Regions from separate parts of the Homo sapiens genome. Here all the other regions are linked to region 2. Evidence: fine-mapped expression QTL. A gene starts in region 2. Each other region holds a variant in brackets. All regions are shown on one strand. Distances are between the middles of the regions. Region 1 overlaps MPDZ (multiple PDZ domain crumbs cell polarity complex component). Region 2 holds the start of MPDZ (multiple PDZ domain crumbs cell polarity complex component). Region 3 overlaps MPDZ (multiple PDZ domain crumbs cell polarity complex component).

Region 1 (2,766 bases), 170 kb before region 2:
TCCTCTCATCTATGAGGAGTCTATGAATCTTTAGTGCTAGAAAAAATTGTGGAGGTAAAAAATATTAAGCTTTCCATAATGATGTTGTCCAAAGTTCCTTTAGCTGTAACTATGGACACCATATGTGCAGTTAGACATGATAAAAACCAATTTTAAGTTGTAAATCTTGAACAGTATATAACAAAGCTTTTCCACAGTAAAAAGAACAAAAAAAATGCTTGCTGCTTATTTGTGCACCACTGAAAATTCTTATTTATTCACTTTAATTCTGCATTTACACAAAAATGCTGTAATAAAATATCTGTACACTACTTCTGTTACAAATATAGATATTTAAAGTGACTTTATATATTCTAATGTAGGAGTTTCACGCTCTAAAATGGGAATGAACACATGATAATTCCTCACCAGTTGTCTCAATAAACAGCTCCATCTGTTTCCCTTAGTCTTAAACTATTGTATTATAAGATGTTAATATAAGTCAATGAAATGAAGTTATGTTAATCCCCTTAATTTTTCTATCAATTTACTAATGGCATACAACCAAAATAATTAGTAACACATTGTTCTCTGTCATTAAGATTAATATGAATTGAAAACCAATTGCACAGCACACTAACACATTTTTAATGTTGCATCGGTTGTTAAAACCAGCACTAAAGATTCTGGAACCCTTCTATGTTCCTCTATGGTTAGCAGCATAGTTGCTTTCTAGAAAAACCATAGTCAACATGGGGTGGCATCATCATTTACTTATAGCAACATGAAAATATTTTACAAAAGGTCAAAAATAAGAATGAAAATTGAAATGTGCATTAAATATAATTTCTTTATAAAATTTAGGGACATTGCTTCATGTATTTGCCATTTACTCAATTGTAGAAACCAATTTTAGCAGGAAAAATATATATGCATATTAGAGGTGGGGAGATGCAATGTTTTTATAATACTGTTGAAAATTTTAAAATACTGACAGTATTTTTAAAGATTTTCATTAGAAAACCTTTTTTTCTTTTTTTAGTTTGGGGTGGGGAGAGGAGGTAGATTGCCAAATTGAGGCATTTTTTTTAAACTCCCCGAGATTTTCTTCTTTATTTTATATTTTCATTTTTCATCCTAA[T/C]TTACTGAAGCCATTTTCTTTGGTTAGCTTTAGAATTATCTTTCTTTATACTAACCAGCTTAGCATGTAATAATTCTTGCCCATGTGACTACAAAACATTAGATATCTCCACAAATAAAAACGAGATTCACCTACACAAATATTCCTTCTCTTTAAGTTCACAAAATGCAAGAAGAAAAGAAAAATGATGTTAGGTTGTCAGTAAGGAAAGCATTTCTAGATGAGAAAAAGAAACTTAAGTGTTATTTCCCCCCTACAGTTTTGAAGACCCGGCTGAACACAGCATAAAAATTGTCAGGACCAGTGCATTCTCTTTACAGTAGGAGGTGAGCTAGGGGTTGGGTTGGTTCAATTCTGGCAGCCAATTCAAGAGAGAACCATCAAAGTGACAGTGCCTTTTGTCCGTTTAAGGATGGCAACAGCTTCTTCATGGGTGACTCCTTCTAGACTCTGCCCATTGACAGCAATGATCTGATCGCCCCTTTTCAGACGTCCGTCTTCAGAGGCTGCTCCCTGCAAATTATAAAGTAGACTTGTTTATTTCTCAAAAAATGCTGCCTTGCAACTCACAACAGAAAAAGATCTCAACAGGAATGTAAATTGCTCTGCTTGTACACACACACTGCTCCCAGTGCTCCATGGGTGCTCTAAGCCATTAAGCAATGATGAACATAGACAAAGAAGGTCTTTCTCCTAAATGGTTTTAGCATTGAGATACCAATTTGAGAGAGAATTTAGCAGTCGATAGATCAGTTGGATGGGTTTTTGGCTGTTCAGCACAGCAGTTGGTGGGAACACAAATTAATAAAGAATATTTGGGAATTTGCCTAGTAGGAATGATTCAATAGAATCCAGGATTTTCTATCCTGTAAATAAGACCTACAGAAAGAAGGTAAAGGATTAGGTAGGAACAAAAACAGTTTTACAGGACAAGGGCTTGGGGGATGACAAAATCCAAAGGTCTGCAAAAGCACAAAGCCACCTGAACATTCCCTATGGCAGGATAAGGCATAAGTTCTAAATTTAAAACCCACTGCTATTTCTTTTTGTGGTTTTGAAAAAGCTATTCAAGCTGTCTTAGTTCTTACTTCCCAAGGGTAGAGAGATTCTTCATATTCCTTATGGACCCTAAATGATTAAGATTAAATACAGACATTGGTGTTAGAAAAAGAACCCCATCTTAAAGCACGCTTATAGAAGACAATTATGCAATTAAATATAAAATTAAAAATATGGAAAAGTTAATGAGGAATCCATAATGATGAAATTCTTAAAATATGTTCTAACTAGCATGCCTTAAATAAATTGTTCCTAGGCTGAGGAAAAGGACTGTATGACTCTTCTATTCACTAGCAAATGCTGTTTGTATTTTTGGACATACCGATAGCTTTTTTAAAAATCTTATAAATTAAGCCTATAGCTAGCTTGTTGTAGGTACAACACTTTAAATTGGCTAAAAAAAAGATCTTTTCCAAAATAATAAAATAAAATATCCATAAAGAACTATACCACTAATCCAAAGGCCCTGTATCAAATTTTTAAACACGTTTGACTAAGTTTTGTTTCTTTTGACACTGTAAAATTTTGAGATTCTAAATTTTTCCCTGCAGAAAATCTTGTCGAATTTTGTAGCCCCTGAAAAACGA
Region 2 (2,766 bases):
ATCTGATGATACCTAGGAAACACTAGCCTCCAACCGCAGCCCCTACTGCAAAAAGGCAGTCAGTGCCCATTGCCGGGGTCTTCCCAAGCGGAGCACCTCAAAAGCCGCACCGCGCAGTAGAGGTCTCCAGGGGCCCCCACTCGCCCCCAGTGACTACGGAGCGGCCTCTACCTCCCGCCGGCGCCTGGCCACTTCTCCTCCCCCGCAGTCTCCGCTTGATTTCCATGTGACTGCAGGCAAGAATAGCCCAGCCTTTGTGCCTCTGCAAAGAACGCAAACAAAAATGTACACCATCACCACCCAACAAACGCGCAACTCCGCAAGACACAAAGCGTCTCCCAAACATCGCTTCCCTGGTAACATCCGGCATCCTGGGGCTGCCAAATCGCAGACAAAGACGCCCATCAGCGCGGGGGGTGAGGAGACTAAGGGAGAGACAAGACCAACGTGCTCCCACCAACGGGAGCGGCGGTTAAAAGGGCGCCGGTGCCAGGGGTGAGGGACGGGGCACCGGTACCAATTAGCGGCTCGCCTCGGGGTCCCCGCGGCTAAGGCGAGAACGCAGGACCAGGAGCATTGCTGCCCACTCTCTACCGCAACCCGCACATCCCGGGACCACGTAACGGCGGATGGGGCGTCCGGGAGCGGCCCCTGCAGGGGAGAGCAACAGGCTCCCGCGCCCTGGAGGCCTGGTCTGCGCTCCGGGCCCCCAGGCTAACACCCCACCCCCAGCCCCCCGACACCAAGACTGTGCCCCTCTGGGTCAAGGAAAAGGAAAAACTTTTAAACCTCTTAGTCAGCGAGAGCAAAAGAAAGGGGTGGCGGGGGTGCTGAAAGGTCTAGGATTATCCACCGCGGGGCTGGGGGGAGTGGAGACTTGCGAGTAGCAAAGGAAACTTCTAGACCCCATCCTTTTAAAAAAGCCACAGCAGCGGCTTCCGCGAAGCGCCGGGCCGCGCGGGGTGGGGCAAGCGCACCGCCCCACCGCCCCACGGCCCGCCGCCACCCCTACCCCCACCCCCACCCCCACCCCCATCCCCGCCCCCACCCCCACCCCCAAGCGCCGAGCCCAGGGCGCCCGCGCACCTTCCCCGCCGGCGCGCGCGCAGGGCGCGGGGGCGCGCCTCGGCCTCTGGGCCGGGGCTCAAGCGCCGCTTACCCGGCTCGCGGCGCCCGCCCAGGGCCGCGACGCGAGGGGGCGGAGGACTGGGGAGCAGGGGTCGCCGGGGCCTCTGGATGCCTCGCCTCGCCCACGCTCACTGTCTTCTCTTCTGAAGTAACGACCCGGCGAGGAGCTTCGGATCAAAACGCACAGACACTCACGCGTGACTGAGAAACTTAATCCCGCGGTGGCCCGACGCCAGCCTAGCGCTCCGCCGCGCCCCCTCCCCCAGCGCGCGCCGCACTTGCGCCGACCGGGGCTGCCGCGGAGGCGGTGGCGGGGCCCAGGCTGCTGGGGCTGCCGTGACGCCTGCGACCGGCGGGGCGGCGGGCGCGCCTTGGCCAATCAGGGGACGCGGCCGAGCAGGCCTGTGCGGGGTTTTAAACTCGCTCCTGGGCCGCTCGACCTGGGGTGTGGGTAGTGGACTTGTGAGGTGGTCAGATAAAATATAGGCTGCTCTGTTAAATGGGAATTTCAAATAAAAAAAAAAAGGAATAATTTTAGTACAAGTATATCCCATGCAATATTTGGGACGTACTTATGCTAAAAAGTTCTTCGTTGTTTATCGGAAATTCAAATTTAATGGCAGTCTTGTATTTTTATCTGCCGATTTTGTCAACCTGCGGAAACTGATAGCCTGTTTCTAGCTCCTCAGATTTTCCTTATGTGCACTGCCCTGTGGATGCTTTCTGCATGGGTAGCTTACTGAATGGCATAGGATGCTTATGAGAAGCGCTTTAATCAGAAGGGTGGGGGCAGTCCTCTCACTTTCTAAGTAACTTTTCGCACATCAGGGTGCATTCTTAGTCTGATGATCCAATTAAAAAGCAAAAACAGTAAACATGGAAAAGTTATTAGAGTTGCATGGCCCCAGGAAGAACAGATATTCATTTCTATTTTGTGCCACTTAAGATTTTCTTTCTGTTATCCTCAATTTGGAAGTCCCACGAATTTTTTTCTGCATAAGAAACTCTTTTTCAAAATATCCCTCTGATATTAGATTATAGGACCAAAGGATACTCAGAAGTCCAATTTAGAACATTTAAAAGAATTTCTTTTAATATTCTGAATAAAAATACTTTTTTCTCATATTCCTTGGACTTTCAAACACATTCACAGCTGTTGACCTCTCTCTTCCTAGAGTCCTCCCCACCCCACCCCTCTTGTAATTCCATGCAATCACACTCTTGGTTTTGCTTCTTCCGCTTAGTCAAGGGCGGATGTATGGGCTCTGAAGCTTGTACAATTGGGAGCTCTGCTTTAACCAAAAAAAAAAAAAAAATCTTTCTTTAGAAAAATTCAAAAAATAAATGCCCATGTAAACACATTGCTAGGGTTGCTCCCAGGCAAGAGAAGGACCCGGAACGTTAAGCTACATCAATTTCCAGGTAGATCTGCCCCTGTCCCCAGGCCACTCTTCAGTCTTCTTTGCCTCCTCTCCCCCAATCTTTAGATGCTGGAATTCCTTAAAAATCAGTTACGGGCCCTCTTTTCCTTTTAACTCTTACCTCTAAATACATTTTCACTTCTAGCTTATGATCTCGTACCTACAGAATCTTACATTTATACCTTCAGATTTATCCATATATTCAAGTGTTTATTTG
Region 3 (2,766 bases), 150 kb before region 2:
ATTACTTTCCCAGCTTAAAAAAAGAATCTACGAAATGATATTTCTAATTCATTAGTTAGAGGCCTGGAATCAAGGTGCCCTTAGCAATATATTTTTGGAGAGCAAAGAATACTATTCCCTTGTTTTAGAGATGAAGAAGCTGAGGCTTTGAGTGGGTAGGTTTCCTAAGATGCCACAGCTGCTTAATGTACAGCACATAGATTGCCTGCCTAACAGTCCAGTACTCTTTTTCCAGAAGTCCTCTCTTTATATCCTGCCCTCACCATAGGGCTCCCTGACTACAACCTTCCAAACAGTGAGCCACAGGTAGGCAGCTGGCTCCCAAGCAGAAACCCTCTGCTGAGTTCAGGTGTTCCATATGTGCAGGACTCTCATGAGTCCAGAGGCCTTACTTCGGATGGACTCCGGTTCTGGGGAGCCAGACTGTGGGACCATCAGAGACTGGGAGCTGTTCTTTTTTTCTCCACTGGCTGCACCAGCTGCTGAAGGAACAGCCTGGGAATCTGGATTCTCAGCATGGATGGTAAGTTTTACTGTCATCTTTGCTGTCTTCAGAAGGCTAATAAACTGGCAGGGTGTATGTGTGGAAGAGAAACAAAATTCAAAGCTGAATTAGTAGACATACCAATGAGTCACCATTATCAATGGAATCTAATTCTCTCTATGGTTAAGGGGAGGGACAGATGCAAATTATTTCTTTGTCAGGACTTGGGTAAAGAAAGAAATGGCTCTAGTTTCTCTCTAGCTTTTCCAAATGCTTGATGTAGATTAGGGCCATGGTTAATTTCTACTCTAAGTCTAGCTCTGACCACATTTTTTTCTTATATAAGACTTTCAACTTTTTACATCTCTAATCTCATCCGTTTTTCTGAATGCCTACAACCTTAGAAGATATATGGGTTATTTTACCTACTTCCTGATTCTATAGAAGCAACTTACACAAACAGTTTTAATAAAATAGAAACACATATGTTAGAAGCAGAATAAGAAAAGTATACAACAAAAAAGTCAAGGTAAACGAAAAGTTAAAACACAGATTTATGGGTTAAAGGATCTGGCCTAAATACTTACTAAAAACTGAATTTTTAAAAAGTAACTTTAAGCTTCTTACTGTACAATGAAGAAATGATAAGTTATATGGTTCTCTCTCACTATAAGAAAGAAAAAGCATACCATATTTCAAGGAAACAAAGCTTTTTTCTGGCACTAATAAATAAAAGGCCTCAAATGAGA[T/C]ACCAAATAAGTATTAAGATCTCTTTTGAGGAGAGGGAACTCAAGTACAAGATATGTTTAACCCTAATAAAAATTACGTATTTAATGGTTGAGTCTTACAATCTGTTTATAAAGTAGTATACACAATGGATATTTATAACAGCAAACATTCATTAAAAAATATTTTGGCACTAACAGTCACTGTTAAGGAGTTTAAAGTTTTCCTAAGGAAAAAATGGAAATATTTATCAAAACTGCCCAGTGAATATTGAATAATTTGTGTGGCAACGAAAAATACCTTAACACCAACTGGAAAATAAGAAATAGAAATTGAAGAACTTCTGAACAATCTCTTCTTTTCCTTAAGAACATGTCTAATACAGCTACATAACCCTAATTCTCTATGATCGCAGACACAAACACTTTAATCATGCCCAAGGATGGGCCTACATTACCATTTACTTTATTTTGGAAAATTACCTTTTCAATAGGGTAACCAACAACAATTTCATCATCTACAGCCAGTATCTGATCTCCGACTTTGAGTCGTCCATCCTAAATGGAAACGTAGAAGAATTTGAGTGATATTCCAAAAGTAATTCCCTCCCCAACTACTTAATGACAGCAAGAAAGGTAAACCTCACCGTGGCTGCTACCCCATGCTCTGTTAAGCTCTTTATGATGACTCCACTGAGTGTATCTTCTTCGCTGATAGCAATACCCAAACCCCCCTGATCCTAGAAAAGTAAAAACAAAAATGCTCAGAAGACTTGAAACAGATTAATTTTATCCAAATGGATACCAAGGGTAAGAAAAACAACTAAAACTCTTCTGAAGTCCAGAAATCTAAGACCTTAGACTTTAAATCTAAGATCTTAGAAATCTTGTCTTTTCTTAAACAAACTTTCAAATTTTCCTAATGGGAATAAATTTTCCTCCATCAAACATTCAAGTGTTTTCACTCTTCCCATATGTCTGACATCTTTAGTAACTTTAGCAAAATATCTAGACAGCAAAAATACATTCAATAATTCAACCAAAACATTCAGCATTTACAAATTTTGTCTAATGACTGAATAAGTCATTCAAAACCAACCAAAGAATCCCGCTTCTTCTCTGGCCTGTCGCTTGGAAATAACAACAGGGTCTAGCCCCTTCATTCTTTTCTGCCCCTCTTCTTCCTTTAGCAGGCAGTCTGCCATTACTGATGCAGACTCTGTCCTTTTGGGGGGTGAACACTCAGACTTGTTTCTCCAGACAACAGCATTTCAATCTGCTGCAGACTGAAAATGCCTCTCAGTCCCAAGACAAGCTCTGAGAACCTGCCAAGGCTGGGGAGCTACACCTACTTCGCTACATTTTCCACATTTCCCTTTATCAAAACCAAATGTTCAGAAATATTGGCTTTTAGCTTTCTTTAATGTTTACTTTAATAAAATTAAAACAGAGTTTTTAACATTTTCATTGCCAGAGCTAGCCACCTTCTAATTTTTTCTCCAGAGAAAAGTTACAAAAAGCAAAGAAAAGAAAAGAGAATCTTGACATGGTTTCTCT

What was found. PIP is the estimated chance that this variant, and not a neighbour inherited with it, causes the effect.
Region 1: its variant is the best candidate, but not a certain one, in a credible set for the expression of MPDZ in fibroblasts (GTEx, PIP 0.88).
Region 3: its variant is the best candidate, but not a certain one, in a credible set for the expression of MPDZ in tibial nerve (GTEx, PIP 0.64).

The regions. Positions count from the first base shown.
Region 1 is chr9:13,105,479-13,108,244 of GRCh38, forward strand. MPDZ (multiple PDZ domain crumbs cell polarity complex component) reads right to left here. Exons shown (of 47, transcript NM_001378778.1): 47 at 229-1,633. The coding sequence ends at 1,487. Among named protein-coding and RNA genes, the nearest start is that of SNORD137, 130 kb to the left of the region's middle. The variant T/C (reference allele first, on the strand shown) is at 1,121.
Region 2 is chr9:13,278,241-13,281,006 of GRCh38, forward strand. It overlaps MPDZ (multiple PDZ domain crumbs cell polarity complex component), which reads right to left and starts at 1,452. Exons shown (of 47, transcript NM_001378778.1): 1 at 1,160-1,452. RefSeq lists enhancers at 1-359, 360-1,075.
Region 3 is chr9:13,124,824-13,127,589 of GRCh38, forward strand. MPDZ (multiple PDZ domain crumbs cell polarity complex component) reads right to left here. Exons shown (of 47, transcript NM_001378778.1): 33 at 1,857-1,949; 34 at 1,693-1,767; 35 at 393-567. Among named protein-coding and RNA genes, the nearest start is that of MPDZ, 150 kb to the right of the region's middle. The variant T/C (reference allele first, on the strand shown) is at 1,234.